Linked DNA regions of Homo sapiens: all the other regions are linked to region 1. The links come from fine-mapping of genetic effects on gene expression. A gene starts in region 1. Each other region holds a variant in brackets. All regions are shown on one strand. Distances are from middle to middle.

Evidence for each region.
Region 2: its variant is fine-mapped to the expression of GLS in whole blood (TOPMed, PIP above 0.99).
Region 3: its variant is fine-mapped to the expression of GLS in breast (GTEx, PIP above 0.99).

What each region holds. Positions count from the first base shown.
Region 1 is chr2:190,875,591-190,886,700 of GRCh38, reverse strand. GLS (glutaminase) reads right to left here and starts at 5,880. Exons shown (of 18, transcript NM_014905.5): 1 at 5,231-5,880. The coding sequence starts at 5,616. LOC124906110 (a long non-coding RNA gene) reads left to right here and starts at 4,713. Exons shown (of 2, transcript XR_007087791.1): 1 at 4,713-4,788; 2 at 5,133-10,365. RefSeq lists enhancers at 4,403-4,592, 3,757-4,956, 6,353-6,492 and silencers at 4,913-5,222, 5,283-5,372, 5,423-5,482, 5,823-6,082.
Region 2 is chr2:190,976,447-190,987,556 of GRCh38, reverse strand. STAT1 (signal transducer and activator of transcription 1) reads left to right here. Exons shown (of 25, transcript NM_007315.4): 13 at 489-518; 14 at 610-703; 15 at 1,897-1,938; 16 at 3,164-3,247; 17 at 3,817-3,915; 18 at 5,039-5,174; 19 at 6,888-6,937; 20 at 7,691-7,785; 21 at 8,556-8,701; 22 at 10,532-10,717. Among named protein-coding and RNA genes, the nearest start is that of STAT1, 32 kb to the left of the region's middle. The variant G/A (reference allele first, on the strand shown) is at 5,948.
Region 3 is chr2:191,078,480-191,089,589 of GRCh38, reverse strand. All of the region lies in intron 3 of STAT4 (signal transducer and activator of transcription 4), which reads left to right. Among named protein-coding and RNA genes, the nearest start is that of STAT4-AS1, 63 kb to the right of the region's middle. The variant C/T (reference allele first, on the strand shown) is at 5,679.

The DNA.
Region 1 (11,110 bases):
CAACTGATCCACCTGCTTTGGCCTCCCAAAGTGCTGGGATTACGGGCATGAGCCACCACGCCCAGCCTGATTTCTTTTAAATAACTTTTTAAAACTCAAAGAAACCCACAAATATCTTCAGCAAATTTCTTTCAAAGTGACATTTATCTTTGGACTAAAATAGTGCCCCCCCTCCCTTTTAGCTGGCCTACATATTGCCTCATAAAAAAGGCTGAATTCTATTTGGTAGTCATTTCATGGATTAGCTGACTTTGAGGTAGGTAGACTTCTCTATAAAAGAGTAAGGTCTGGAAATATGCAGCTAAAAGTCCAGGAGACTAAACCCCTCAGAATCTAATTCTTGTTCTTTCAGTGAATTTCATCCAAATATTAATAAAACTATAAATTAACAGCATGAGTTTGTTAATTACAGATCATGGACAAAGTTATCAATGACTGATGCACATTTCAATATAAATATTAGGTCACAAAAATGTTATGACATATAGTTATTGGTACCTTTTTCACTTGCTTTTAAAAAAACAAAACTGGGCTGGGTGCAGTGGCTCACGCCTGTAATCCCAGCAATTTGGGAGGCCGAAGCAGGCGTATCACAAGGTCAGGAGGTCGAGACCATCCTGGCTGACATGGTAAATTCCCATCTTACTAAAAATACAAAAATTAGCCAGGTGTGGTGGCACGTGCCTGTAAGTCCCAGCTACATGGGGGGCTGAGGCAGGAGAACGACTTGAACCCAGGAGGCAGAGGTTGCATTGAGCTGAGATCACACCACTGCACTCCAACCTGGGTGACAGAGTGAGACTCCACCTCAAAAATAAATAAATAAATAAAAATAAAATTTAAAAAAAAAAACTAAAACTCACTGATAATCATCACCTAGAAAAAAATTTTTAATAATGAAGAAATCAAAAATAACTAAGGGGCTGCCTGAGAAGCCCAAAGGAAAAAATTAAACATACTTTCCACCTTGATTTTAGCTTAAGTGAATTGTAAATATGTTAGCTTTTAAAATTAAAACCAAATGCAATACTGAAGGATCATAAAAACATGTGCCCCCATTTTAACAGAGGTTTTGTCATTCAGTTCTAAAACTTAATATTTATATCTGCCAAATACTAACTCAACTTCCTTACTAGTATTGTTCAATCTACCCAATTCAATGTTCGCTGAAATTCATAAGCATTTCATCTTACTTTGAAATTCAATGTTCAGACCAGGTGCGGTGGCTCACGCCTGTAATCCCAGCACTTTGGGTGGCCACAGCGGGCAGATCATCTGAGGTCAGGAGTTCAAGACCAGCCCAGCCAACATGGTGAAACCCCATCTCTACTAAAAACAAAAATTAGCCACGCATGGTGGCGGGTGCCTGTAATCCCAGCTACTCGGGAGGCTGAGGCAGGAGAATGGCTTGAACCCGGGAGGCAGAGGTTGCAGTGAACCGAGATCACACCACTGCACTCCAGCCTGTGTGACAGAGCGAGACTCCATCTCAAAAAAAAAAAATTCAATTTTCAGAGTATACACCTCGATGATTTTCTTTGCCCTTCATTGTCCATAACTATCAAAACATAAAGCTGAACTATCAAAACATAAATCCATACTAACTAAAGCTAGCTGAAATCATTTTTGCTTGCATTTTTACTTTTAAATATAAATATATTTTAAAGCATGCTTATTTGTGTAATTACAAATATTTCTGAATGCCACGACTTCATGTAGATATGCAAACATCCAACTACCACATCACAGCTATGCAGTTTTTAACAGAAACTACCAAACTGCCTAAAGTAACTGAACTAATAATTTATACTTCTACTAGCAATGCTAGAGTTCCTATTTTCCCAATTACTTGATTTAACATCTGCCAATCTGAGAAGGGGAAAGTGACCTCATTGTTGTTTTAACAGAATACTTTCAATATTGCATCCTGTATGAATTATCTATTTTCTAACAACATACATATGCTGGTATTTTTCCAGCCCAATTTCTGTTATGTATCTCTTTTCCTTTCTCATTAAAAAATAAATGTCCAAATAAAAAAACTTAATAATGCCCCTTACCTCTATCCCTCTGACTCTTCCTAGGGACCATTCACTAAGATAGGATACATACTTCTGGACTTTATGGAAATAAGTATAACCAGCTTAACAGAGAAAAGTATGATAAAAATGTCCATATGGGCAAGTGCTGGCATAAACCATAACATAGTTTGTGACTTTAATATAATGCTCATTCCAGATCCTGCTGGTTTTCTGGAAGAGAGTGCTATTTTCAAATTAAAACTCTAAAATTACTCTCATAACAGTACGCAAAATAGGTTGAATTGGAGAAAAGAATGAATATCAGGGTACAGACTTAAAATTTGAAGTCATTGAATATGTGGCGACAAATTTAAGAACAGAGCTTTGGATTAAGAGGTGAAGTATTACCTACACAAAGATGAGAGTCAAAGCTGAAAGAAGGGATACGCTGTTGAGAAGGCAGACAAGTGGGAAAGGGACAAAGGCCTCAGCCTCAGGGTTTTTACCCAGTGAGGAAATTCAAAAAGAACTAGGAAAGAAGAGAGAACAATTTTGAAAACGAAGAGAGGCAAGCAAAGTTGGTTTTCAAGATAACAGAATGAACCATAACAAAATTAAATAAGATCACTAAAGACAAAACTGAGCAAAGATCATTAAATTTTTCTATGTGATATTAAGACGTTCGTATCCTAAACCACACTAAAGTTGCGTGATGGAAACAGCATAGTCTAAAGTGACATTAGTTCAAAGAGTTTGTGAAAAAAAGGTAAAGTAACTTGCTTATATCACGCCTCCTTCCAGAATATAAAGTAAATAAAATATAAACTCAGGACCAAGGAAAGGAGGAAACGCAGATATCCCAGCCATGTGAACTGATGAAATTGGTGTGGTTAAGCATTAAATTTACTCTGAACTTATTTATCAGCAGAGCAAAAGGTAAACAGTGCAACTCACATAGTTTCATATAAGACAGATGTATAGCAATTTCTCAAGATAAACATTTTTGTGGAAACTAAAAAAATTAAAAACCTTCATGTGCAAGCCTGAAATTCCAAGGCCAATCTCTTTAACAGGCTTTACAATAATGAAGAAGCAATGTTTTCTCATTTATTTAATAAATAGTTATGTGTCATTTAACACACGCCAAATATTGTTCTAAGCCTTTTACAAAATGTTAATTTAATTTTCTCATGGTTATTTCTTTTAATAATACTACATAAAATCTGGCACAGTCCTGAGTGAGTGCTAGCATACCAGGTGGACTGCTGACTGAGGGATGACCTATGCTTTGCAGGCTAAGCATTAGAAAGGATAACAGGATCAACTGGGAGCTTACCTCCCAGGATAAGAGAAATGTTTGTCACATAAAGGCAAAATGAAAGGAGCCAAAGAGGGAAAGCTACATTTGGAAACCAGATCATTAAGGAAATAGAAACTTTAACCAAATTAAAAAACTTTCTTCACAACCTTGAGGCCCTTGCTAAAAGGTGATTTTTTATTAAAAAGGCAATGAAACCAGAAACTTCTGGACAAGTGAATCACAGAAGAAGCTCAATTTCCTGTTTGACAAAAGAGGAAAAAAAAGAGAGGCACTAGAGCCACTGCAGAGACACAGACCTGAAGACATAATTTTACTAGAATGCAGTTCCCATCTTGTAGCCTTTAAGATGAACTTTTAAACGGTTGTGACTGCATTTTGCAATTCTGTACCTTGGGCACTTGCATGTAAACTCGTTACTTCCTTGGTAAACCGGATGATGTTAAAGTAAAAGTGAGTCCCAGATGAGATTAAATTATCATTCTAGTCCCTAAAACATGAGAGAAGTACAAATTTAACAGAAGTATAGCTTTTTAGAACTTGAAAGGATTTAAGTCATCTAACCCAAGATATTAAATAACCTGTCCATGGTCAGGACGCTATTTTGTGGCACAAAACCAACATCACAAAATACCACAAATTTCGCCCATCATCAAGTGATTTTTTTCAAATAATCTTTTTCAGTCTGGGAGAAGAACTTTAGAAAAGTTTCTGGAAGGTCCCAACTTCAATTACAGGAAAACATCAAGCAGGCGTGAGATTGAAATTATAACAATGTTCTCACTTTCAGTTTGACTTAAGGAACTCTAGAGCTGGAAATAGCAGCAGAAATAAAAGGGAAGCAAAACAGGTTAGAGTGTCAGCGTACAAAGCCAGAAAAAGAGTAAGGTATAATGAAAGCAGATCCGTAAATTTTTACCCATTTTGGGAAAACAAAGTGGTCCATTTGTATTACACAAGACAAAAATATATAGGAGACTGCTTTGCATATTGTTTAAGAAAAACCAGTTTTGCTTTAAGACTAAACTACTGTGCCGTACACATACAGGATGAGTCAACATCCTATCACAATGAAGTCACAAAACCTACTCAACTCAGATTTTTCACTGAGTTAGTGTATTACGTCACATTTCATCTTGGCTATTTAACTTTTATTTCTAAAAATCTCCCCATCTCACGGAAGACCTGACAAGCCAAAGCTGGTCCCTTATGCAAACAGGTGGTCTATACTGCGTGCCCCATCTTCTCGGCCACATGACCGGATTCCTCCTAATCTCACTTCTGAAACATTGTTTCCGGTGCCCCAGATGGCTCTACACGTGCCTGAGGTAGCCACTCCCGAAATATAAAGAGCTCTCTGTCACATCTGGCTTCCAACCGGATGATGGCAGAAACCAAGGGAGGGCAGGCAGAGCGGAAACGAGCCAGGAAAAGCGACAAGTCAGGAAGGTAAAGGCTCTGCTGAACGCCCAACTCCTAAATGTCACTCGGTGGAGATGTTCGTGCAGCATCGCCCACGAATGGCTGGGGCGGGCGGCCAGGCGCTGCAGCCGCAAGCCAGGGAGCTGAGCACGCAGCGCGGGCAGGGGAGCGGCCTCTCTGGCGCTGGGGACGCCAGGCGAGCCCATCAGGCCCCACCGCGGCCCCACCAGGGCGACCCCCGCCGGGGGCGGAGAAGGGAAGTGGGTGCCTGGCGGAGGGTTGCGGGCGGGGAAGGCGCGGGCGGGGCCGGGCCTAATCACATGGCGCAGACGGCGCAGGCCGCCCGGCACCTCTTTCTTTCTCTTTTCTAGACCCTCGGCTCCTATCCCGCCCCACCGCAGGGCCCCACACAGCCTGAGCCCGGGCCCCGAAAGGAACGAGGCCTCCTGCGCCTCGCGGAGACACTCACTTTTCACCTGAGGCCACCAGCTCTTTGCCCTCGCTGTTGCCAAACGCGTCCGTCTCCCCGGGGCCGTCCTTGGGGCCGGGCGCCGCCGGGGCAGCGGGTGGCGACACCCCGGGCTGCGGATGCGTGCTCCCCTTGCCCAGCTCCTGCAAGATCTCCGAAGGAGAGCTGGACAGGCCCCGCGCGAGGGGCTCCGCCGGCCAGCCGCCCCCGCCCCACCACGGGTGGAGTCGCGCGGCGGCAGCCGGGCCCGCGGCCGGCCGTCCCCCGCCTCGGGGACGCCGGCACAGGGTGACCAAGGGCTGTGCCCGCCGCAGAGTCGCGCTCACGCCGGCGGGCGACCGCAGGAGCAGGTCCCGCAGCATCCCCGAGCCTCGCAGCCGCATCATGCCGCCGGGTCCGTCAGCGCCCGCTCAACAGGGGAGGATGCTCCGGGCGTGGGCGGCCGGTTTCCTCGGGGAACGCGGTCTGTGGTGGGGCGGTGAGATGACAGAAGAGGAAAGGGCAGCTACTTGGGTGTGGTTCCGGCTCGGACTCCCGCAGCGGATGCGGGTGCTGCTGCTGCTGCTGCTGCTGCTGCTGCTGCTGCTGCTGCTGCTGCGCGCTAGGATTGCCGCGACCGGTTCTCTTCGCTCCGCCTAAGGCTCCGCACTGAGGCTAAAGCGCAGGGGAGGGCTAGAGACCTTCAGCGCTCGCCGACGGCCCGCCCCTTTCGCCCGCTGCGATTGGCTCAAATCCTCGACCTCTCTTTTGATTGGCGATTAGGGCAGTCAAATTTCTCTCGGCTCTGGGTGCGCGGAGAGTAGGGCGGGGGATTGGTGGGGGGCGGGGAGAGGAGTCAAACTGACGTGTGAAGCGGGTGAGCCAGGCCCGGCTGCTCAGTAGCCACTTTCTGCACGCCGTGCCAACTCCGAGGCTAGCCTAGTTGGGTACTAGGGGCTCTGGGTTCTCGCATTTATGAAGCAGTGGGCTCCTCCACTCTGGGAATTCGAGCTGTTGGGGAGACTCATGGGCGAGATCCCCCGCAGCCGAGGGCAGTGAGGTCAGCAGGTTTGGCAGGGCTGAGTCTGGCCGAGCTGTCGGAACTCAGCCGATCCCAGCTCGCATCTGGCCCCCAGGTCAGGGCGTCTGGCGACTCCTCCGAGAGCAGCCCCGGACAAGCTTCATCCCTCTCCCAAATGTAACATTTGCTTGAAACTTTCCATGATTGGCTACTACCCAGACGTGAAGTGTTTTGGAAAAAATGAGCAAAATCCTTTCAGCTATGCGACTTAAGCCATGGGAGGGTGGAGGTGGAGGGAGGGCGACGAGTGGCGAGGCGGGGTGGGGGGGTTGCGGAATCCAGAATACGACAGCTTTCTTTTTTAAAAATTATTTTTTTTAAATGTACACCGATACTTCAAAAATAGTTTTGAATAGCAATGATTCCGTTAACGCTATTTGCTTGAAAGCAAAACTGTAGATACTTTTCTATTTTAAAAACTGCTTCACTGTTTTAAAATAGAAGCGTTGGAATACGGGTTCTCTAAGTTATTTCAGCATCACTTTATCCATTTATCCTTTTGGACCTGTGGAAAAACAGCCAAGAACCTGATAAACTGAGTTATTCCCTGAGGCTACATACACATTACATTCCAGGACAAAAAAATGTTTTTAGACTATTTCCTGAAACAATTAGGTTTAAATGGAGTAGATCCACAGAGTTTAATAAGATGTTTTGGGGGTTGGTGTGTTGTTACTGTGTTGTTGTGTGTGTTCGTTTTGAGAAAGGGTCTCACTCTGTCGCCCAGGCTGAAGTGCAGTGGCGCGATCACGGCTTACTGCAGCCTTGAACTCAGGGGCCCCGGTGATCCTCCCACCTCAGCCAGCACCTGCTTTTTTTTTTTTTTTTTTTTGTATTTTTGGTAGAGACGGGGTTTCGCCAGGTTGCCCAGGCTGGTTTCGAGGGATCTGCACCCCCTGGGCCTCCCAAATTGCTGGGATTACAGGCGTGAGCCACCACGCCCGGCCTAATGAGGTGATTTTTATGAAACTAGAAGGGTGTATGTCAGGTGCATCATTAATTGATAACCGGATTTAGTAATCTAGTGAACTGTAAAATATTTCAATAGATTAATAATTAGGAAATCTGGCTGTACCTACAGGTTATGTGACCTTTGGCATGTTACAGCCTTGCCGTGTTTTAAGTTTTTTTTTTCTATCTGCTCTTTAACCAGAAGAACATGGAAAAAACTATCATGTGTAAAACATAGTCACCTTTTTTATTTAAAAAAAAAAAAGCAGGACAATGGGAAAGTACTTAGATAGCTTTTATTACTAATGTTACTTGTCCAAAAATGTTGATGAATCAAAGTAATGATATATTCAGGAATAGAGACATCAAGTTTCAGAGGAAAGGTAACAAATATTACCCCTGCCTAACCCTGACTTGTTAATGACTTGCAGACTTTAATATTGTCCAATATATTAGCTGCAATTAGTTATCAATTTTAACTGCCTCTTTTTTCTCAACAACACAAAGCAACTGACAATCCAGTTACTGTTTTCCTCTCAGTTTCTCCCTTAATTTCTCTGAGTTTCTTATGAAAATTGTTTTAGATATTTAAAGGTTTAAAGGCTTTATAGTTCACTTAACAAATAAGAAAGCTAACCTAGTAACAGATTATTTTCTAGAGTTTCTAGTTTCTAGAGTTTTATTTTCTGGTAGTTTCCAGACTTTCTGCTTTTGGTGAGAATGGATAGATATTACTCCCAAAATTTGGAAGAATTGAGTCCACTGAAATTTAACCCCTTGTTTGAGAAGGCTAATGAAAAGGTTATAGACAGCAAAGAAACTATTATAAATAGAATAAAAATGTGACTCAATACTTTCATTTGATTCTTTTCTTCATCTTATATAATTTTTTAATCTTTAAAGATATTTTTATCTACAACTTTGTAACCATTACACAACTTTGAAGTTTCAGTTATGTTAAATTGAATTATATCATTACATAAACTCATGTAATCATCATGTAAAAAGTATAAAAACATTTGTATACATACAATAAGTAGTCCACCAAAATATCTACAAATAGAAAAATGCTCTCCACATTAACTATGGTTGGGTTGTCAGATCTACTCTTCGACTTCCTTTTTGCTCCTAAGTGCAGCTACACTACAAAGAGTTGCTGTCCCATAGCCATCATCAGGTAATCAGCCATCAAAAGGAATAATTGGAATTTGTGCACTTTGTGTCTGTTCTAACTTGAAGAAAGGTTCCTGTGCTTCTATGTTCCTGAGCTTCTTTGTTCTGTCGAAGATTACAAAAGGCTAATGTTTCAAGATCATAATAAAATCCATATATAGGCCGGGCGCGGTGGACTCACACCTGTAATCCCAGCACTTTGGGAGGCTGAGGCGAGCAGATCACAAGGTCAGGAGATTGAGACCATCCTGGCTAACACGGTTAAACCCCATCTCTACTAAAAATACAACGATTAGCTGGGCGTGGTGGCACACACCTGTAATCCCAGCTACTTGGGAGGCTGAGGCAGGAGAATCACTCAAACCTGGGAGGCCGAGGTTACAGTGAGCCAAGATCGCACCACTGCACTCCAGCCTGGCAACAGAGCGATACTACATCTCAAAAAATAAAATAAAATAAGATAAAATAATATATATATATAGAAATTCCAGATTGCGCCTTCACAAAAACTAGTAGATTATTTGTTGACCTAGAACTAAAAAGAAAGTAATTTTCCTTTGACTAACAGCTTAAAAGAATTGCCTAAGCCTTTTTTTGAAATTCTTCTGTTTGGAGAATAGAGTAAGGTTCAGGAAGCCTCTAAACAAGCTTCTGCTACTACTTCCCTTTCTTCTGTTGGTTTCCTGCTTTAACTGGCCAAATTCCTAGCCTCACTGATAAGCCCTGCCAAACATGGCTTATTTTTCCAATACTGAATATAGATGTGTACCAAAGTAAGTATGGTAAATCCCTCATCTATAAAAAGGGGATAATATGGCCAGGCAAGGTGGCTCACGCCTGTAATCCCAGCACTTTGGGAGGCCGAAGCAGGTGGATCACCTGAGGTCAGGAGTTCAAGACCAGCCTGGCCAACATGGTGAAACCCCATCTCTACTAGAAATTCAAAAAATTAGCCAGGCATGGTGGTGCATGCCTGTAATCCCAGCTACTCGGGAGGCTGAGGCAGGAGAATTGCTTGAACCTGGGAGGCAGAGGTTGCAGTGAGCCGAGATCTAGCCATTGCACTCCAGCCTGGGCTATGAGAGAGCAAGACTCCATCTCAAAAAAACAAAGGGGGGCGGATAATATTGGTACTTATAGGGTTGTTGTGTGGAATAAATAAACAACACATATAAAGCACCCAGAATAATGACAGTAGCACTCTGTAAGTGTTATAGCTGTTATTATCAAACCATAGGTGAATAAATTTTGACATGCAATGTGATCAGTTTTTACACTTATTGTTGAAAAGCCAAACAATTGTTTTAAACCATCTAATAATAAAATACCATTTAAGGGGAACCTAGAGATAATTTACTTACTTCATTTTTAGAAAATAAACCAATAATTTTCAAAGTATCTTAAAATAGAAAAAGATAAAGACAGTCAGATTAAGAAAAGCTGGGCTCAGTGCCCAAAGTAACAGCTATTCACAAATAGCTAAAAAAAAAAAAAAATTCCAGAGAAGGAAGAATCGCTAAGAAAGCAGTCCTTGAATATACATGTCATATACAAATACCTTAACATATAGCAATTAAATCTAAAAATATATCATTTGCCATCTATGTAAATGAAAGTATACCTCTGTTCATTGTGACATCATATAAAATGACAAGAGATATTCATCAAATTTGAGCAGCATATCTGAATGATCTGCCTTAAAATACTAACTATATGAAGTTCTTTTTGAGAGTTTCCTGATGGCCGGAGTGGGGGTTGGGTGGGAATCAGTTATTTTTCTCCACTTAGAGTAATATGATAAAGATTTCAATTAGTGGAGTTTGTAAGGTAATATTGTTTATATTTACACCACCATTATATTTATGGGGCCTCCAAATATTAATTTTTTAAAGTGATTTTAATGCTTATTTTTCTGTGGATTCATATTAAAAATAAATCAGGCTAAACCCCAGCCCAGAGTTAAGAAAGTCTTTCTTGTATATTAGCAAAACCTAAAAAAAACTGATTTTGTATATAGTCCAAAAGTCAGTCAAAAGGATACCTGCTTGAGAATGAAAACAACCTCTGTGGTAGATTATACTACTATTCCCAAATATTTTTGTCCCTCCCACTGGGCAGACTTTACCTCCTCACCTTGGATGGCAGTCTTGGCCTTGATTTGTTCAATGATATGTGACAGGAAGTGGTATGCCACTGCCGAGCATAAACTCACTTGGTTCTGTCATCTCTCTTTTCCCTTTTAAACAAGAATGGCATGTCCCAGAGAGGGGACGCTTCTTTCCCCCCACACCCCACCACAGTTCATTGGTTCTAGTCCAGTCCATGAGGGGATGCTTCTTTACCTGGGTCCCAGAATTATGGAACAAAGCTGACAATGGCTTTGGCTGACAAATAACATCAAGAGAAATAAGCCTTATTTTAAGTCATTTAAACTTGAGGGTTATTACCATAGAATGACTTAGCTTAAGCTGACTGATATATCGTCCAATTTGAATGAAGAAGACGTGGTAGCCAGGATACAAATCTGTATCATGAAGAAGAACATTGGCGAACTCTAAAAGATAGTCAGTCAACCTACAGAGCAGTTGAAAGAGTACCACTAAGTGGGACTGCCTGTCAATAGGCATTCTTTTCCAGGTACAATTAAAACCAAAGCTCAGGTAGGAGACATTTAATTGATAGTTTAGTATGTCATA
Region 2 (11,110 bases), 100 kb before region 1:
AGAATTAAATGGTCACATTGGCAGTCCTCTGAGCTTTGTGACTACTGGGCAGTGCTGTTGGCTGGATCCCCAGTGCTTAGTGCAGGGCCTTGCACCAAGTAGCTGCTCAATAAACAATAACGATAGCTTAAACATTTATTGAGGGTGTACTGGTGCTGGTGCTTACATTTATTGAGGGTGTACTGGTGAGGAATTAACTAGTTTATTCCTCATGATGTCCTATATGTTGGCACTGTTAGTATGTTGTGCAAATGAACAATGTAAGGCCCAGACCATTTATTTGCCAAAGGTCATTCAGTGATACTTGCCAGACCTAGTATGGGTAGATGGAAGCAGGGAGTGAATGAAAGGCTGCAAATCCATAGGTGTAGATTTATTTTTTATTCATCATTCACTTACACTCTTATGCTCTTATACTCTTATAATTTTGTTAAAGCTTATTTCAAATTTTAAATACGCATATGTGATTATATATATTTTTTTTGCAGAGATGTGAATGAGAGAAATACAGTAAAAGGGTACGTGACGTACTTTACGCTATACTGTGCTATATTTTTATTTATTTAATAGTTGGAAGACTTTTCAGCATTTCTTTCCTATATTGTATAGATTTAGGAAGTTCAACATTTTGGGCACGCACACAAAAGTGATGAACATGGAGGAGTCCACCAATGGCAGTCTGGCGGCTGAATTTCGGCACCTGGTAGGGACATCAGTTTCCTCTCTATGTTGTCTCTGGTTTCTTAGGACTTTTGACAATAGAGCAGCCCTTTTTGGCACATTGCCATGTGGAGGACGCCCCCCTGCTGGGGTTTGTAGACTTTGTGGCTGGTGTCTTCCTGTCGCCAGTACTTGGGGCATTTTGGTTTCTCCTCCTTATCCCACGACTGTTCACTCTGTTTTCTGGGCTGTATCACTTGCAGTAAAAATATTTCCTAAGCCTGTGTTTACGTAAATGATTTGCACTTGCTGCCTGCATGATCCCCACGGTCACTCACCTACGCTTGCAGTTTTCTCAAAGGTTATGGCTCCCGTGTCCTGACTGTGATCCAAGTGTGGTCCTGTACACCAGGGTTCACTCCTCAGCCCCCGTGTTCCCCTTCCTGGTGGCCCTGCCCACAGCCCCTGCCTCCACGCCAGCCTGACTCTACCACCTTTTCTCCAGGGCAGTAGGGCTCATTCCCCAGGCAGTGGAGACCCAGCAGGATGCTCTGTGTGGGTGCACCATCTTTCCTCCTCTGTGAACATGGGGGCTGCCAGTTGCTGTGAGGCTCTGTGGGTGCTGAGTCCGAAGCTTTCCCTGGGCCCAGAACCTGCAGGAGGTTAAAGGCATCCTTTTTCACTAGAGACCACTTTGTGATCCAGCAAGCCTCGTAGCTAGGAAGCTCTACCTAACTCGAAAGCTTAGCCCAACTCAGGTGCCTGAGGGTATTCAGAGCCGCCCTCAGGGCCCCAGCCTGCTCCCTCGTCAGCTCAGGGATTGACAGCTCAGAGATTGACGTCCACTTGAGGGCAGGTGGACCTGGAGTCACTGGGCCCAGCCTGGAGGACTCTGCTGAGGGAAAGGGGAGGGAGAAGCTGTCCCGAGCCTCAGGGCATGAAACAGTTAACGAAGGTGCATGGGGAAACATTCAGGGAAAGTTTGAACACAGGAGAGGAGCGGGTTGTGATTCCAAGAGATCCCTCCAGACTGGTGTCCGCACCATGAGGCCACTGAGGAAACGTGCTTCTGCTCATGGACCCTGAACGAGGGCCAATTTGTCCCATGTTCTGCATTCTAAAGATAAAGTCACGTCTGTCATTCTTTCTAGTCCTAACTTTGTTCTCATTTGTAAATGAAGATAGCAACTTTGACCATTACCATGGTGTTTACTAAGATGATTATTTGTTTTATAGCAATTGAAAGAACAGAAAAATGCTGGCACCAGAACGAATGAGGTGAGAGTCCCTTTATGTTGTGAATGGGCCCAAATCAGGCAGGTCTGTCTAGCAAGGACAGGTCAGTTGGTGGCTGGGGACACCTCACAGAGGAGTTCAGACCCATCAGGGAAGAGCAGCAAAGGAGCTGGGTATTTGGTATATCTGTGACAACAGTAAAAACACCACATTTGTGCTTTACTATTGTCAAACGATTTTGCACACAAATTCATTAGACACTCATGGACAACTCAGTGGAGTAGCTGTTGTGGGCTTTTGTATTCTTCGCATCTTACGGGTGAAGAAATTGACTCACAGAAGTTTGCAGGATTTAGCTAAGGGTGCACAGAGTTACTGTCAGAGTTGGAACGAGAGGCCACTTTGATGACTGCCTTGCTGTGTGCCAAGAGGGCTTTTCGGCCATTGCATCCCCTACCAAAAGCATTGCCTTTGCATCAGTTTCCTTCCTACAGCGTGATCCTTAAGGAGTTGGGTTTGTGATGCATTCAGAAATGAACTATGGACAAAGGATGAAATATCTGGAGTTGTTTTGGTTGAGAACACTTTCGTCATTTATGCACACACAGTGTGCAGTCCTTCCACACCAGGACCAGTGGAGGTCACATGGAGCAGCGGGACAAACACAGGCCCAGGCAGTGCAAAGATGCCTTCTAGCCCTGGTGTGCGCCTGAACTATGTTTTGACCTCCCTGGGTCTAGCTGTTGCACCTCTCTAGTTCTAAGTTGTGAGGCTCACATGAGGTAATGCTTATGAAGGCACTTTGAAATCTATCCATTTCTACCGAAACCAAGACAACTTGTGACCTGCCAAGTTGATGTGAGTCAGCCCTTCCGGTAGGCAGTAGACAATCACAAGTATGCACTTACTCCCAGTCCTCTCACCTTCTCCCCACCCATCTGCATTGAGATGTGCAGCCACACTGGGCAGGCAGACAGAGCTGAGGGTCGAGAAGCCTTAGGTCACAAAGCCATTAGTTGCTCTTTCCCCATTGACAATCATTGCTCTGAATCTATAACCCTTGCCGTAACTTCAGACACTTATCTTTCAGAGCACACTGAGATACTAAGAATCATTAAATCTGGGAGAGATTGAATATTGAGTCTTCAGACTTGCCACTGATTGGGCCCAGGATCTCTGTGGCCTGTTGCAATGTTAATTGGGCTTTTGAAAGTTTTAGGATCTGTGAATAATTATATTCTTTTCTTCTTTCCTTTTCTCTTCCAAGGGTCCTCTCATCGTTACTGAAGAGCTTCACTCCCTTAGTTTTGAAACCCAATTGTGCCAGCCTGGTTTGGTAATTGACCTCGAGGTAAGACTTTTATGGTCCCGAGTTGGAAAACTTCATTATTTTTACTTTTAATTGTTACATGTATTTTTATTTCTCAGTGTTTGTTCTGGAGGTATTTACCTAATTGTTTTAAAATGATCTTTTTCAGCTAATACTATCTTAACCTTAATTTATGGTCCAGAAAGCTAGACAATTGAATTAACCTTCAAATTCAATAACTTAAAAGTTCCAGTTGAGATCGCTGATGTTAATTTTTTTTTTTTACATTAAGCATTGGGACTTATTTATTTTGCTCTGCCCTCCCCCCACATTTTATGTTTTCATTGTGACAGTTTTCATCTTCTCATATTGCATATCCCTTAATTAATTATTGTAGCTATTATTATTTTTAGGGACTTATTTCTTAACTGAAAGATACATCAAAGACAAGTTAAACTGGACAGAAGAACAGAACTTAACACTTCTCATTTTCAAGTATTAAATATGTACAAATTTACAAATAATCCCCTGCTTTTAGTTGAGGCTAAGCAGTTATCTGAAGGTGACATTTCTGTGATTCAGATGATTTCAAGGTCTTTGTCATCCTTTAGACGACCTCTCTGCCCGTTGTGGTGATCTCCAACGTCAGCCAGCTCCCGAGCGGTTGGGCCTCCATCCTTTGGTACAACATGCTGGTGGCGGAACCCAGGGTATGGAAAACACATTTGCTTTGGTCCCAGGGTTAAGCAGAGACCCCACGCTCTCACTGCTGCATCTCTGAAATAGCCCCAATGGCCAGTTGTTAAGGGAGAAGTGACAAAGCTCCTGTGGTATTTCTAAGGCTTTTGAGTAAATCTGGGAATATGAAGCATGGATATGTATTTGAAATGAGAATTACGTTTTTTCTCCCATGTGGGTAAGCTAGGGCAGTCAGTGATTCCATACCACTTTATTGTTATTATTTTTAAAATGTATACATCTACTAAACAAGCATGCTCCATTCTTAGAGTGTGGATACTCACTGTTAATTAATTACAGTCATTTATAATTATTCAAAGTACTTATGTTTTTTAAAGTCACCAGGAACACTTAACTAGCAAATAATGAATTGTTGCTCCTAAGGGAACTACGAGGCTAGGTTCCTTCAAGCCTCTGGTCACAACATTTTTGTCAACCCATCAATGCATAACATTGTTTATGTGTGTTTCTGTTTAAAGACACCTTATCTAATACACTTGTTGAGGCATTAACATTACACCTATAGCTAGGATCACTGTAACTCATGCCTGAGTGAAGCTTGCCTCACACATGTATTTTCTCCATAAGGCACATCCCAGCCTTCCCATGCTTAGGAACAGTAGACCACACTGTGGTACTATGCTCGGGCACCATTTTAAACAGGGATCACCAACAGCAGTCACAAAATGCAAAAAACATGGCGCTAAATAGGCTTCAAAAAGGACACGTTTTTCTTATGAGAGGTGAAACAGGAAGCGAGTGTCATTTTGTTTGGCTTCAGTTGGAAGCGTGTTAAGAGACTCGAATTCTTTGCTGCTGTGTGCTGCTGTGTGTGCACGGGTGTGTCTTCAAATGACCCCAAAGATGCCATGTATTTAGATTTTGGAGTTACAAGTAAATTTTAGTGAGTAAACAAGTTCACAAATGTGCATCTGTAAATAATGAAAATTGACTGTATTTCTCTTCCCCTACTGTGAAAGCACCTGTGTGTCATATAAACTAGAATTGAACTTTGGGATGGACATATGTTTTAGTGCCACACTTGTGACTGGTGTCTCTGTAGTAACCCTTAGATTTTGGGTGTTTTCTCTCTAGAATCTGTCCTTCTTCCTGACTCCACCATGTGCACGATGGGCTCAGCTTTCAGAAGTGCTGAGTTGGCAGTTTTCTTCTGTCACCAAAAGAGGTCTCAATGTGGACCAGCTGAACATGTTGGGAGAGAAGCTTCTTGGTATATGCATATTAACTTGTTATGTTTATAAAAATTGAAATTCATAAAAATATCTCTCTAATTGCTCTTTTCCCCTCTGCTATTTTGTTAAAGGTAAAAAAGTACTAAAATCTGTCAGCTTTTCAAGCTATAGTTTATTATAGCTAAGTGAGAATCATATGTCACCTTAGAAAGAAATATAGACCTGATAACATTTAAATGAATCCGTTCCTCATTGTCTCATATTAAGATTTCTGAGATGAATTCCCAAGGGAAAGTTTTATGAATTATGTAAAATATATTATTTGTGGCTGAAATAAGTTCCTGGATGAGAAAGATGAAGGCCTATTAACCATTAACCTTGGGGAGAAAAAAGGAAGTCCCTGACATGATGAGAAATAAAGTCCTGGGGCTTGCCCACTGCAGCATAAACCCAGGGCCCTTGCCTCAGGTGGGGCCCAGGTAGCAGAGGATGCCGTCCCCACAAGAGGATGCCTCTTTTGATCTGCAGTTTTGCCTGATTGGACAGAGTCTAGACAGTGGTAGATAATTCCCTTTCAGTGGTTAATGTCAGTGCATTTATTAGTCCTTCATACTAAACAAATCAAAGATCCACTAGTCTCAAGGTCAGATCTTTCAGTGAGTGAGGCTATCTGAACTATTTCTTTAAAAATCCGTGGACAACTTGTATCCAGATTTGCTTTCTGTAGAGCAGCACTGCATTTACTCCAAACAGCAGTAGGCTCTTCCTAACTCAGTGACTTTCAACAGTGCCTTCTTCTCTTGGATATGCA[G/A]CTGTCACAGTGGTGGTCTTGTGCTGTTTAATACAAGTACAAAATCCCCTTATTCCATTTCTTTATTTGGTGAGAGTTAAGAAGGATATCTTTTCTAGCTGTAATGGCTCATTTGTAGTTCTCTTTGAAGACCGATAATGGGCTTACCGCCTCTTCTCGCCCAGGCTGCTTTAATTTGTGTAGCTAATAACCCCGGGCTTCTTCCTCTCGTTTCTCTCACTTGGTTTTTGATTTGCATCAGACTGCCTGAGCCCATGTCCTATTTGGAGGAAAGCTGAGGGAAATGCATAAATAATGTCTAAAATAAACTTGTAAAGTCAAGTATCAGTTACATTGAAGATCTAGGGGTGATCTTGGGCACCTAGGTTGAACTTTGAAAAAAATTCTGTAGGATCCTTGGGAGAGGGGGCTCTGCTGAGCAGCAGAGGAAGGCAGTGGGAAGAGGCACTGGATAGGGAGGCTTCTCTAGGAGGCCCAGCAGAACACCTTTGATTTAGTGCAAAAGGCAAAGTCAGCTGATGGTCTTGGAAGGAAGTGTAACATGAAGAGGCATTAAAAGGACTGTCCTCTCTTTAGAGGAGGGAGGGAAAAGGGGGGCTGGGGAGGGAGAGAGCAGATGGTAAGGCTTTGTGATGTTTCCGCTTTCCCTAAAAACTCTCATATCGTGGTGCCCAGGAATCTGCCATCCATTCCTTTCTGCCATTAAACTCAAACCAACATATACATATTTTAGACCATTTAAATTCCGCCCTCTTACAGCACGTATTATAATTGCTCAGTTAATTTGGCATTAAGGTATCCGAAAATGTCAACTGTGTACATACAATCTTTGTTGGGTGTTTGGCTCTTTTCCTTGAGAGCAAATACAAGAGCCATCCGTCCAACCAAAGCTTTAGAATCAGTTTCTGTTTGCTGAAAAATCTGGTTTTTATTTGTTTAGGTCCTAACGCCAGCCCCGATGGTCTCATTCCGTGGACGAGGTTTTGTAAGGTGAGGACTGTCTGGGTTTTATGCTCTCTAAGTCCTTTTTGCTCTTGGTTGAGGTTCTCATGTTTCTTGCTGTGATAGTTACTTAACTGTTTGCTTATTTTGGCGTGTTCTTCTCTGGCCAAGGAGCCCCTCGGGCAAGTTGTTTACTTTTCTTCAGTGCAGGAGGTTGGTCTCCGAGCAGGAGTCTGACAGGAAGCACCTGCCTGAGTGATAACATTCTTTCATATCTGAAATGAGGCTTCTGTTCACTCACGCTGGACCCCTGCCCAGCAGTGTTTTAGCCATTTCTGTGTGAAATGTATGTTGTGGGCTGGGTGGCGCAGCCTGACCAGCCAGACGAGTTTAACGGCCTGCTCGAGCAGAGGGGCCCACTGCGGGGAACATTTAGATTCTGCTGGAGTCACCAGACAGTGCGGACCAGCTTGCACTGCTGGATTTTGCTAGTGTGGGGCAGCTTGTGTTTCCGTGAGTCACGCTGGAGGTCACCCCCAGGCTAGCTTGCTACTGTTTGGAAAGGGAAGCAGAGCCCGGCCCAGGGAAGTGGAGAGCTCTGGAGAGCTCCTGGTCTGAATGCTGATAAGAGCGGGGAGGGAACTTGATATTCCCTGCCAGGGGAGGGATCCCATTGCTGTGCTGAATGGGACAGTTCCATCCTTGGCACCTGGGGAGTCTTTGCAAATGATGGTGGGAGGGGCCATGGTAAGTCATTGTTTTAGATTTTTGTTCATAATGTCTGCATTTGTATACTTTCAGGAAAATATAAATGATAAAAATTTTCCCTTCTGGCTTTGGATTGAAAGCATCCTAGAACTCATTAAAAAACACCTGCTCCCTCTCTGGAATGATGGGTAAGGGCCACCGATAGATGTATTTTGAAACATATTTTTAGTGCTGCGAGGTTGAGACAAGGCCTGAGTCCAGCTTCAGTATTTGACTAGGCGTGTGTGAATCTCACAGGAGTGCGCATTTATAGGCTGCCCCTTCAGGGCTTCAGAAGAGTAGAACCTCATAACATTAACCTTACACTTTCTTAGTACAAGTATATGTATTGGCAAAGCTAAATTAAAAAAAAAAAACAACTCTTGAGTGCCATTCATGCATTCATTCACTCAACAAAAATTTTTTGAGCACCTACTATGTGGCCCCTAGGAAGGAAGAAAAACCCTTTTAACTGGGTAAATCATTTCTATCTTGACTTATTGCCAGGATCGGCTGATATTTCAACAGAAGCTTTAACTTGATCAGAAGGGCTAAAATATGAAAATATATTGCCTAGGTCTTCCTCTCCAGTAAAAAAGATGTATACATTCAGACATTGTTATGGCCTTTAAAATAATAAAGGAACAATAAAAGGCTCATTAATCCCACACGTGTTATTGAGCATCTGTAGCATCCTACTGACACCATGTTCATATCGCTTTTTTTAAAACCTTAGTATATACATGTATAAGTGAAATGCTTCCTTAAGTGTCAACTGAACAGATTTTAAAATAGTCTACGTTTTTTACCGTAGGTTTTTTTTCTCACATTCCAGCCATTTTCTTGGTTTGTAAGTTAGCATGAAAATGGAAATCATGATTGAACTAAAAGCCCATCCGTCCATCTCTTCGATATCCAGGTGCATCATGGGCTTCATCAGCAAGGAGCGAGAGCGTGCCCTGTTGAAGGACCAGCAGCCGGGGACCTTCCTGCTGCGGTTCAGTGAGAGCTCCCGGGAAGGGGCCATCACATTCACATGGGTGGAGCGGTCCCAGAACGGAGGCGGTGAGTGGGAGTTTGAGCACATAGTCCCACCATTCCATGTGTGTGAAGTCCCTCTTCATCGCCGCCAGTCAGCTCATACAGATAGTGCGTTTGGGACATGAAATTGCAGATCTTATACTTACCCCAAATGAGCCCCCGATAGGATTTAATAAACCACCACAAATGTTTGTGGTTGTGGTTCACTCTCTGGAACATATTGTGGAAATGATGGTTTTGAAAAGACAATGCCAATTCTTTCCTTTGCATCAGGTTTGTTATCTGCAGATCAAGGATGTGAGTCAATGTAATCTGCAACCCGTTCTTGGAAGGAATCACATTTCCCACAGGAGTAAGCATCCACATTCTCTTAGGGTCATCCCAGAGTAGAGTGTGCAGATGAGACAGGCTTCGGGAGAAGACTTCATACACATCATCAGCCAGGGAGTTGATGCAGGACCTGTTGGGACGAGTGGCAGCCTCTACCCTGCCTTCAAACAGAGCAGCTGCAAATTTATCTTTATCATATATGGGGTTTCTATTTAATCAAATGAGTCCATGGCTAAAAGACTCCAGAAACCTTGGTGTTATGAAGCAGGTTTCTGAGGGTGAAGCTCAACAGCGTAAATGAAAAAATCATAAAGACCAACTGATTACTTTTCACTGTTGTTTAGAGTTTGGTCTGTTTGAAGGGCAGGAGGAAAAACTGATTTGTTTTAGTAATTTTTATACTTTCAGTGGGTAGACACAAAATGGAATACTCTTCTTGTTCTATTTATTTTTCTGAAATATTCCTCTTCTCCTGTTTTTCTGGAATACTCTTATTCTATTTGTTTTTCTGCCATACTCTTCTTGTTCTGTTTGTTTTTCTGGAATACTCTTCTATTTTTTTTTTCTGGAACGGTATTCTTTCTTGTTCTGTTTATTTTTCAGGAATACTCTTCTTGTTCTATTTGTTTTTCTGGAATACTTTTCTTGTTCTATTTTTCTTCTGAGGAAAAAGCAGGGAGGCTGAGATGAGAGTCTGGCGTGGGCAGTAGTCATTAGAACCTGCCCTTTTCCTCTTATCCTGTTCCCTTCCTGAACCAGCTGAGAGACAGATATAGTAGACCAAGCAGAGATGAAGAAAACCCTTGGCAACCAGGAAAGGTCAAGCAGGACACTACCAGCCAGGAAGGGTTAGGATGGCAGCATAGTCTCATGTTCCACAGCAGGCTCCCCAGAACACCTGAACCGTGGCCTCTGGAAGGTCGACACCCAAAGGGAGATTCTGTATCAGCTAGGAAGAAGGATCTGAATTCAGTCTGGGAATAAGAACGGGAGTAAATTAAACCATGGTTTATTACGTTAAGGGTTACAGGGAAATGTAGCAAATAGGATCATTTTTAATTTGAAATGTTGTTTTCTATATATCATAATTTATTTTAATAAAAAATTAGATTTTTCAATATGAAAAGAAAAACAAAGTGAGTTTATCTCTAGTAATTTAAATCTGTGGCTTAAGCCAAGATGATCCACTTAGTAGTAAGTTATTTATGTGCCTATGGGCAGCACATCATTGAAGATGCAGGCTTTTAAAGGTTTTTAATAAATCTTTTTTGCCCAGATTTATAAATCTAAGCAAATAATGGCAAATAGAATGTTATTGAGAATAATACCTCCCTTTATTTTCCCTGAGACAGTATTATAATTTATTTAGAAATAAAGCAGTCTACTGTATATGTTATAATGCTTAGATTGTGATTAGTTCTTATGAGGTTCACTCAAATCCATCAACTCTGCAGTGTTTTATTTCTCTGTCCTCTTTCATTTTGGGATGTTCTATGGGATTTACTTAGCTTTTCTCCTTTTTAGAACCTGACTTCCATGCGGTTGAACCCTACACGAAGAAAGAACTTTCTGCTGTTACTTTCCCTGACATCATTCGCAATTACAAAGTCATGGCTGCTGAGAATATTCCTGAGAATCCCCTGAAGTATCTGTATCCAAATATTGACAAAGACCATGCCTTTGGAAAGTATTACTCCAGGCCAAAGGAAGGTAAGTGGGGCAAGCAGGTGGTAACAGCGTGGCACAGTCTTTCCTGATGAGGGGGTGATTATTCTGAAACTCCACCCATGCAGTGTTTTGCTTTCGAATTGGTAAGAGTAGGCTTTCAAAAGATGGCATAAACTCAGTGCAGGTGAAACATAATGCATTATTTGGCCTGATACAGCTAGTAAGAAATGAATGGACAATTTCCTATTTTAGGAATGTTGGAAAAGTCCATTGCTGGTCTTGTGTATTTGTTACTATCACTGTTTCCACATGAAAAGGGTTTAAATAAGGAACTGTGGTAAACCAACAGAAGGCATCTTGCTCACGTTAAAGTTGAGGAAACTGAGGCCTGGGAGAAGTGAAGTGGTTCATTTAGGGTGGCCCAATTACTTACTA
Region 3 (11,110 bases), 200 kb before region 1:
TAGAAATGAGTTTTCATCTCCTTTAGATAAATACCAAGGGGTGCAATTGCTGAATCATATTACAAGAGTATGTTTAGTTTTATAACAAATTGCCAAACTGTTTTTGAAAATGGCTGTATTATTTTTCACTCCCACGAGCAACAAATGAAAGTTTCTGTTGCTCCACATCCGCATCAACATTTGGTGTGATCAGTGTGCTGGATTTTGATTGTTCTGATAGATGCATTGCAGTATCTCATTGTTATTTTAGTATGCATTTCCCTGACCACGTATGATGTGGAGCATCTTTTCATATGCCTATTTTTCATCTATATATCTTCTTTGGTGAGACATCTATTATGGTATTTGGCCCATTTTTAAATTGAGTTTGTTTTCTTGCTTTTTAAAAATATTTTAGATAATAATTCATTATCAGATATGTTTTTTGCCAATATTCTCTCCTAGCCTGTGACTTTCATTTTCATTTCTTAACAGTGTCTTTCACAGAGCAGAAATTTTTCCACTAATCAATCTGTCGTTTCATGAATTTTGCCTTTAGTGTTGTATCTAAAAAGTCATCACTAAATCCAAGGTCATCTAGATTATTTTCTGTTATCTTCTAAGACGTTTATAGTTTTGCATTTTACATTTAAGTCTGTGGTTCACTTTGAGTTAATTTCACTTATTTTTTGTGGGAGGTGAAAGGTCAGTGTCTAGATTCACTTTTTGCATATCCAGCTGAATATCCAGCTATTCCAGCACCACTTGTTGAAAAGACCACCTTTGTTCTGTTGTGTCGCATTTGCCCTTTTGTCAAAAGTCAGTTAAGTACATTTACGTGGATCCATTTCAGAACTGTCTATTCTGTTCCATTGATCTATCTGTCCATTCTTTTACCTGTACCACACTGTCTTGATTACTATAGGTTTATACTAAGTCCCAAAGTTGAGTGGAGTCACTTCAACTTTGGTTTTCTCTTTCAATGTCATTGCTATCTGGCTCTTTAGCCTCTCCATATAAACTTTAAAATTAGTCATTATCCAGAAAATAACTTGCTAGTATTTTGATTGGAATCTGTAGATAATTCCATTGAATCTATAGATAAGTGGGGAATAACTGACATCTTGACAATACAGTCTTTATTCTGCTTATTTCTGCCTAAAGTGAATATGAAATATCTTTTCATTTATTTAGTTCTTCTTTGATTTCTTTCATTAGTCTTATCATTTTCCTTACATATCTTATCCACACATTGTTAGATTTATACCTAAGTATTTCATTTTTTGTGCTAATATGAGTAGCATTGTGCTTTCAATTTCAAATTCCAATGATTTGTTCCTGTTCAATAGGAAAGCAATTGACTTTTGTGTCTTAATGTTACAGTCTATAACCTTACTCTAATGGCTTATTAGTTCCAGGAGGCTTTTTTTGTTGTTGTTCTTTGGGATTTTCTATATAGACAGTCACTGTGTCTATGGACACATGTGGACAATTCACCTGTGAACAAAGAAAATTTTATTACATCCTTCCCTATTTGTATAGAATTTATTTCCTTTTCTTACCTTATTGTATTAAGCTACTACTTGCAATATGATGCTGAATAGGAGTGGTGAGTTCAGCCTACCTTGCCTTGTTCTTTGTCTTAGCAGAAAAGCACCTAGTTTCTGACCATTAAGTATATTACCTGTAGATTTTTTGGTACATTTTTTTTTTATCAAGTTGAGAAATTTCACTATTCCTAGTATACTCAGAGTTTTTATCATGAAAGTCAATTGCTTTTTAAAACCTATTAGACTAGCCATTCTATTTTAATCAGCTTTAAGACAACTAGTTCAGCTCTTCTTCAATTTAGTGGGTTTGTTTTTTTCACCGTAGACATAACCTTTTGATTCTGGTGAGGAAAGATTAGGTAGAAGCCATTAAGAAAAATTACATACTCAGAATAAAGAGAAGGAAATAATAAGAAGCTGGTCATAACAAGACCAGCAAAGGTGGCCTTGTTATGTAAATGAAGCCTCCCTCAGAGTAGATGGTAAATGTTTCATTTCAGATTTTTAAAGGCCTCAGACTCTTACTCTGTCCTGGATGGGGTAGTGGGATGGAAAGGGGAGGGAGCGTGGTTGCATTAATGGAGATTCTCTACAGATGCAAATTTTTCCCACAAAAGAGCTTTGCAAGGCCACTTCTGTTAGCTGGCCAAGCTGCAACCATTTTAAAACACATCAAAGAAATATATTTGGGAGTAAAATATTTTAATTTCCTTTAGTCCCCACTTTGAAACTTAAAACAGGTTTCACGCATTAAAAGGCAAGCTGATAGCTTTGGAGAGATTTAGGTTTAGAGGTTGTTAAATGGAGACAGACAATGGAGTGAAAGAAAAATTGGGATAAATAGAAAAGAGCAAATTTAAATATATTGTTTCATATCTTCTTTCATCACTATATTAGTCCTGAGAATAGATCAATTCAGTTAAACAGTTGTGTCACATTCCAGGAGGCGACATTGCAGATGGGTTAGGCTTCTATATTAGGTAGACAATCAGATCTCTAATAAGAGGCATTTCTATAGAAACATAAGAAAAACAAAGGTGAATGTCAAGAGCAATCAGTCTCTATACTAGTTTTCTAGAGCCTCTGAGGCACTTCAGATTGCCACTGCAATCCAGATTCTTCTGGATTGTAGTTCAAACCAGATGTTCAAGTGAACTTTCTGAGAAGTCCAAACATGAGCAGGCAGATACAAAGGTTGTTAAAATAACAGTTGCTGTTATTTTCTCCTGAGGTTTAAATTGCCTAGCTTCAGTTTGAGAAGCTTTAAGAAAAGCAGTTCTAATTTCTAGCAATTTCAAGTCAGAAACATGGGAGAAAAAAATTGAAAATATTAGTTTGGAGATATATAGCCAGGAGAAAAATTCAGAACTCAATCTAAATTGTAGCAAATACTAAAAACTGAAAAAGAATAGACAAGGCTAGAATCTGATAACAAGTATACTACAGTTTCTTTTGGAACATAATTTTTCTCTTTCCAATCCCCCAATTTTACTAAAGACAACATCATAGCAGGAGTAATTTATTTGCACAGTAAGTTTTAGTTTAATTATACTTGGTCTGATTATTTGTATAAAATGCATTGAAAGTAATTATTTGCTATACAGGCTCTTTTTAAAATTAGCTTTGCTGGAACTTTTATTTAAAAATAAGGACTCTCAAATTAGACCTTTTAAAAGCCTCAAGCCCAGCCAAGGATTTATCTATGCTTGCAGATAGTTGTATGAATTGGGTGAATTCCTCTCTTCTTGAGGTCCTATGAGGTTCCCGGGCCTGTCAGAAAGTGACAATCTTTACTTATCACAGGTCAAGAACCCTGTGAAGGACAAGATAGAAGGCCAGTTTTTCCAAAGGGCTTTTATGGGCTCTGTACATCAATCCCAATTCCTCAAAGCCATCTGTTCATATCTGAAAATATCGTTGCAACCAAAGACTTGGTAAAATAGCCAGTGTCTTCAGTGTGTCCTCTTACAGAAGAAAAGAGATTATTATTATTGAACTTATGAAAATAACTATTGCCATAAATTAAGAATACTCACAAATAGTTTCCAAATTCTGGAGAAAGAAATATGTTTCAAATTTTGCTCACAAGAATATATTTTACTCAGTTGTTAAAAGCTGTAAATAGTTCAAATGAAAAAAAGGTTTTCTTGACTTTGAAAAACAAAAAAAGAATCAGTAAAGTTTGAAACAAAAAAAGTAATAAAATTATTTAAATTTTCTATTAGTTCAGTCCATGCAATTAACTTCTGTTCTACTTGATATTGGGTCAGCAATTCTCATGAACACATCAGCTCTCCCTGAGAGTCCTGGAAGTTTTCTCTCTATTCCATTGGCACTGTCTCCAAAGTTATCAGAAACCTGCATTCAAGAGCACCTGTCAGAATCCTGAGATGACTTTGAACCAATTTTGAAAGGATCAACATAAAACAATTGTTTGTGGATGACAAAAGTTTTAGAACATCCACAGTTAAAGACACAATTGCCAAGGAAATTTGGTTATTTCTGTGGCTTTCAACAATTTTACATAATAATTATAATTACTACTGATAACATAGACATATCAGAATCATAAGAATCTCATACAATTTGGAATACATACTAATAACACATTAATATAAATATAATATAAATATAAATATTTAACCCAAAGAAAGTTAAACACCATTTTATATTTGGGAGTGTTTCCTATATGACTTTAACATATCAAGTAAGATCAATATGTCTCTCTTGGACTTCTGAAAAGTTAGTTTTAGGACAAAAGACTGAATTTAGAATTTGATTTTGAATTGTCAAATATGAAAGGTTTTAAATACTTCATATCACAAATAGGACCACAAGTCACTATAAAATAAGTAATTTATTTAGCCAAAATGATAATTCAAAGATTTCAAAAGAGCAGAAACATTTACTCTTTGGCAGAGAGGAGACTTACTTTCCCAAACAATAAAATCTAATAAAGATAGCATGAGGCCAACAAAATCTTTCTCTCTCCCATTTTTTTTTTTTGGTAGTTTACTCAAAAGATAAAAATATTTTACTATTTTCTAATATTACACAAAAATCTTGTTCGAGAGAAAAACTACTTTTTTTACCTTTGTATAGTATATTATTAATGCTAAAGCTATTTTTAATAAAACCTTATGAATAAATAAACCTTAATCAGTTGAGCCATAAGGTAAGATTTTCATAAACTTTTTATATTTTTATAATTTTTTATTAAAGAGTAGATCAGTGCTCCAAGAAAATCCTGTGATTCTAACACAAAGGCCTAGATTCTGGCCCTACGTCAGTATGCTTTTTATTTTAATGTTTAATTTATAGAAAAACTAAAAAAGTCCATTTAAAATTTAGCTAACTTGCTCACATATAGAATTTTTTTATAAGATTAATTTTTCTCAAACCTTTCACAACTTGTTTAAACCTTCAGTTTTCTCCTTATTTTAACTTAAAACAATCCTTAAACACTTTTTAACTAGAGAAAATTAATTTTCCTTTAATAAAACCACCTCCCCATGCCTTCTTGTAACTTTATGAAAAATACACTTTACCTTTTTTTATGTACTTTGTATTTAGTAGTTTTAATTACATGTATTAATTGTAATGTCAATTCTTAATAACTCATTTTTAGTGAAAAACTTAGGACGTAAGTAATTTTAATTATGTACCAGGTGCAGAGCCCAGATCAAAGAACCATCCCTAGAACTAGGCTTCATCATATCCTAATGGCTCAACTCTAAGAACATAAGCTTATAGACAGGTTAAGCAAGTGTCAGAAAAAAAGTTCTATTTTTTTTTTTTTTAGACGGAGTCTTGCTCCGTCACCCAGGCTGGAGTGCAATGGCATGATCTCGGCTCACTGCAACCTCTGCCTCCTGGGTTCAAGCGAGTCTCTTGCCTCAGCCTCCTAAGTAGCTGGGATTACAGTCACGCACCACCATGCCCAGCTAATTTTTGTATTTTTAGTACAGACGGGGTTTCACCTTGTTGGTCAGGCTGGTCTCGAACTCCTGACCTCATGATCTGCTTGTCTCAGCCTCCCAAAGTGCTGGAATTACAGGCGTGAGCCACCACACCCAGCCACAAAGTTCTATATCTTAAAACACCTATCAAAGACGGACTAATTTAGGCCAAATGTCTAAATTCTGAAGA[C/T]ATTGCTGTTTTATTTTAGCAATAATTTTAAAACTGTCTTTTTTTCATCAAAGATTACTAAAATCATGCGAACTTGAAAGGCATTTGGGCTTATTTACTTAATTTATGAGTAAGTCAGTTTGATACCCACACAGGCCAGTGTGTTTGACATTGGCGAGGAATAAAGATAAAAATGACTCAACAGCAGTATTTGTGATGCAAAGGGAGAGAGAGCTAGTTGGCAACCAGAAGTACGCAGTAGGTTGCACATTTCTAATTCAAAAATGTGAATGAAAATATTTTACTCTGTAAATGGAGACAAATGCTTCATATCCCAGAGATACCACAAAGAATAAATATCTACATTTGAGAGAAGTATGGTTGTAGGTAGTTAAAAAAATGAGAAGTCAAAAAGTTCTCAAATTGGGGTTAGGAGAAGAGCTGGTACAGCAGAGGTGGGGCTGTCCTGTTCACATCTTCTTGGCCTTATCATTTTAGTTTAGTCAAGTAGAAATCCAACGGCCAGTATCCCATCTTTTTTCATTGCTAATGATAGATGACAAGAGCTGATGTGAAAATACTCCAGTTCCCAAAGTCCTTGAGTAGATAACTCTGTCACATATTCCATACCAACTTCAAGGGTTCTCAGCCCATCTTAGCAAATGGCTAACAGCACACCCTTACTGGCTCCCTTCTCTTCCTCGTCTCACTTGCCCACTCCCATAACAGTGTTTTGTGGGACCAACTCCCACTTAAACGACTTGCACTGGAATCCTTGTCTCAAGGTCAGTTTCTGAAGAAACCCAAGCTAGGACAGTTGTTGGTTATGTGTTTCCTCAGAATCCTATATCCCCTTTGGTCACTAATGCCTCCTGTTTCAGGCCCTCTAGAAAATTCTCCCTTTATTTGACCTGGGACCTATCATTCTCATCCTGCAGTTGCCAGGTCACTACAGTCAGAGAACATCATCTGAAAAATCCTTCACAATACAGAAGAAATTTGTTAAATGTGGTATTAACCCTCCAAATGTGTTTACATTTTTAAGAGGGCCACTGGGAAAAGAACTCAGAGGAGTGAATTCCTAATTGTGAAGTTTCAGGCTCCATGTCGCCTGTATGAAGAAGATTATTTTGAACAGGGCTTCTCACATCTATTACTTCTGACTCTGGAACTTCTTGGACCATTTGGAAGAAAAAGAGCAGATGAACTAGTTACTCTTTAATGACAAGTCAAATTTGGAAATTAGATAGAAAGGCTGTGGAAGGGGAATTTGAAGGAAAGCCAAGAAATTTAGCATAAAGTAGCAAAAAGAATAAATAGCATGTTCATGGATTCTATGACACTGTTCTCCACATTTTAACATCTTTAAATCTCTGAAATAGAATGCATATTATAATCAATAACACCTCTTAATTGCTGTTGCCATGTGGCAATCACAACATCGTTGTCATTGCCTGTGATGTGAAACTGGGTCAAAGCTATCATGTTGTTGTCACTTCAATCGAATTATGTGCACTGTTGGTGCAACATATGTTGATCTTAATTGCTGTTTAAAATGTCATCAAAATATAACACTATAATTTAGGATTCAAACAAATAGTTATTATGTATGCAGAAAGGGACGGGAACAAATCAGCAGGGTACAAATTTGATATTTGTGAAGCAACCATTTGTCACTAGATGGATGACCCTAAATTCCAAGTTTTCTTGGAAAGCAACAATAAAATCCTTTATAGGATGTAAGAAAGGAAGATGCTCACAAGTAGATAAAGTTGTATTATATTTTGTTACTGAAATTAATGCAAAAAAGATTGCCTGTCATACACAAAGCAACAGTGGCAAGAGAAATTGCCAAATTCCTCATAATAGATGAAAGAAATCTCAGCACAATAAGACCCTGGAGTGAATGATTCATGCATTGCACAGTATTATCATTAAGATGTACAACATCAATTTATCAGAAACATCCTGCTGACTGAGCAGGGTACACTTAACTTCCAGCATGATGCAAGTGAGGAAAAATGATAATATGTGTTTAATTAAAGAGGTAATGCTAGGGATGAGGGAGTGGTTTTCCTTGGCAAGACTTAAAATCATACTGCCAATACAAATGGAACTTCAAGGAGTCCAGGATTATGAATTTGGGGTATCAAAAGCAGCATGTCACTATGATCTTATGTCTAACTGCTGATTGCTGAAGTCACCACCATATTTAATTTGTGTAACTGTAAAACAATGTCTAAGAATAAGAACTTTATGTGGGCAAAGGATATGAACAGACACTTCCCCAAAAGAAGACATTTATGCAGCCAACAAATGTGAAAAAAATGCTCATCGTCACTGGTCATCAGAGAGATGCAAATCAAAACCACAGTAAGATACCATCTCACGCCAGTTAGCATGACAATCATTAAAAAGTCAGGAAACAACAGATGCTGGAGAGGATGTGGAGAAATAGGAACACTTTTACACTGTTGGTGGGAGTGTAAATTAGTTCAACCGTTGTGGAAGACAGTGTGACAATTCCTCAAGGATCTAGAACCAGAAATACCACTTGACGCAGCAATCCCATTACTGGGTATATACCCAAAGGATTATAAATCATTCTACTATAAAGACACATGCACACATATGTTTATTTTGGCACTGTTCACAATAGCAAAGACTTGGAACCAACCCAGATGCTCATCAATGATAGACTCGATAAAGAAAATTTGGCACATATACACCATGGAATACTATGCAGCCATAAAAAAGGATGAGTTCATGTCCTTTGCAGGGACATGGATGAAGCTGGAAGCCATCGTTCTCAGCAAACTAACACAAGAACAGAAAACCAAACACAGCATGTTCTCACTCATAAGTGGGAGTTGAACAATGAGAATATATGGACACAGGTAGGGGAACATCACACACCAGGGCCTGTCAGGGGATGGGGGGCTAGGGAAGGGATAGCATTAGGAGAAATACCTAATTTGATGACAGGTTGATGAGTGCAGCAAACCATCATGGCACATGTATACCTATGTAACAAACCTGCACATGTATCCCAGAACTTAAAGTATAACAAAAAAAAATTTTAAAGAACTTTTTCAAAGGTATTATTAAGAGTGAAACACGATAGTGGATGGATAATGACTGTGGTGACAGACGACTGATTAGAAGTCTTCTGGAATAGACATCTGAGAATCTACCATATATTCTGGTTCTCAATGATTCCATGGACATCTGCCTGAAAAGTTAAATACGAATCTCATCTATTAGTGATGTGGTTGTTTATCATGATGGTATGACTAGACTATTACAACTCTTTAATGTTTCAGTCAACAAACCATTTAACCATATGTAGAAAAAATATGAGTCCTGGTTCTTGTCTGAAACCTTCTACTGAGAAATTTTGGAGAGATCAAGAAAGTGCCAGCATCAAAACTTACAAAATGAAGACAATAATTGTGCACACTCTACAGAAATATGCATTGCTGTCATGCTTGATGGCCCAGAAGACATTATTTTATGGAAAAATATGAGTGCCAATAAATCTAAGTTTAAAGGAGATTCAGAAAAATTGAACTCTAAAGTGAAGTAGTTTTAGGAAGACATTAGCCAATTTATTACACATATACTTCCCTTTTAATATATGTACACAATACTGATATATTAGTAAATATATATATCTATGTTGAAATAAATCAAGAGTTTTACCAATAAAGAAAAAATAAAAATTCTAAGTGATAAAAAGCATTGTGGTATACTTTGTATTTTTGTTTCAAGGCAAAAAGCATTACTAGAGATAAAGGTCAGTGCATGGTAATAAAAGATTTCATTGACCACTAATATATAAAAGTCTAAATGTGTATGACAGTAGCACAAGAAGAAAAATTCACAGAGTAGATTTTAACTTACCTTTTTCAATGACTGCAAAAATCTATCAGGCAAAGAAAAATCAGCAAGGATGCAGAAATTTGAACAAAACAATTAACAAACATGGTTTAATAAACCTGTATGAAACATTTGTACCCATCAACTGCAAAATACATATTTGTTGCAAGCTCACATGAAACATTTACAAGATATTAATATGCTGGGTCATAAAACAAGTCTCAACAAATTTAAAATGATTGAAGTCATTCAGAGAATGTATTCTGATTAAAATTAAATTATTCTAAAAATCTGTAAAAAAAAGATAAATAGAAAATCCCTATGTATAGAAATTAACAAATACATTTTTAAATAAGTCACCTTAGGACAAAGATGAAATCCTGATGGAAGTTAGATGATTAAAAAGGAGGAAAATTCTATCAATATCCACATGATATATGATTTGTATATGCAGAAAATTCCAAAGAATATACAGATATAATTTTAGAATTAATAAGAGATATTACAAAAGCATTAGAATCAGAGTTTAGCAAGGTTGCTGGATTCAAAATCAATATACAAAAATTAATTATATTTCTATATAACAGCAAAAACAATGAGGAAAAAGATATTTATTCTAGTATCAAAAAATACCATCTACAGAAATAAACCCAGTGAAACACATATAAGATTATAATGTTTAATAGAGAAACATTAAAGAAGACATAAATAAATAGATTAGAACACAAGTATAAAGATGCCAAGTCTCCCTAAATTTTACCTAAAGATTTAGTGTCATTCAAATTCTCAACCAGGGTGTGCATATGTGTGTGTGCGTGACTTGACAAGTTGATTCTAAAATGTATATAGAAATATAAAGAAGACCTATTCTACTTGACATCAAGACTTACTATAAAGCTGTAGTAAAAAACACAAAAAGATTATCTATTGATGAAGCAGAGAGAGAACCATAAGATGGAATGGAGTCCAGAAACAAGCCCACCCACAAAGGAACACTTGATTTATGACAGAGCTGGCCCAGCAGAGCAGTGGTAAAAGAATAAGATGTTCAGTAAATGTTATTGGAATTTGGTAGACATGTGGAAAAAAATGAAAGAAAACTCTCATTATTAACAAGCTCCAAGTTAATTACAATCAATGGTGCAAAACCACAAAGAAAAATCTCCATGCCTGCAGCTTACAGAAAGATTTCTTAAATCATAAGAAGCATAAAGTTTAATAAATGATTTATTAAAATTTAAAACCTCTTCATTGACACTAGAAGATAGGAAAAAGATAAGCCATAGAGTAGAAGGTATTTGCAATAAATTTGCATGAGAAACTGATACACTACAGAAAATGAGCAGTTTCTCTTTTTCTGGCATGCTGCTTCCTTCCTCCCACTAACACACACTTAAGGGTTTGTTTTATTGTTATTTTGAGGTTCACGTACTTAGTAACTGCTGAAAGGTAAATATGAGTATGTCTTTGATACTTAGGAAAATAGAAGTGCTCATTTGTTACTGAATCTATAATGATCAATTTTCCATAAGATGTTTTTGTTCATACATTTAAGTGAGGGACTTAGGAAAAAT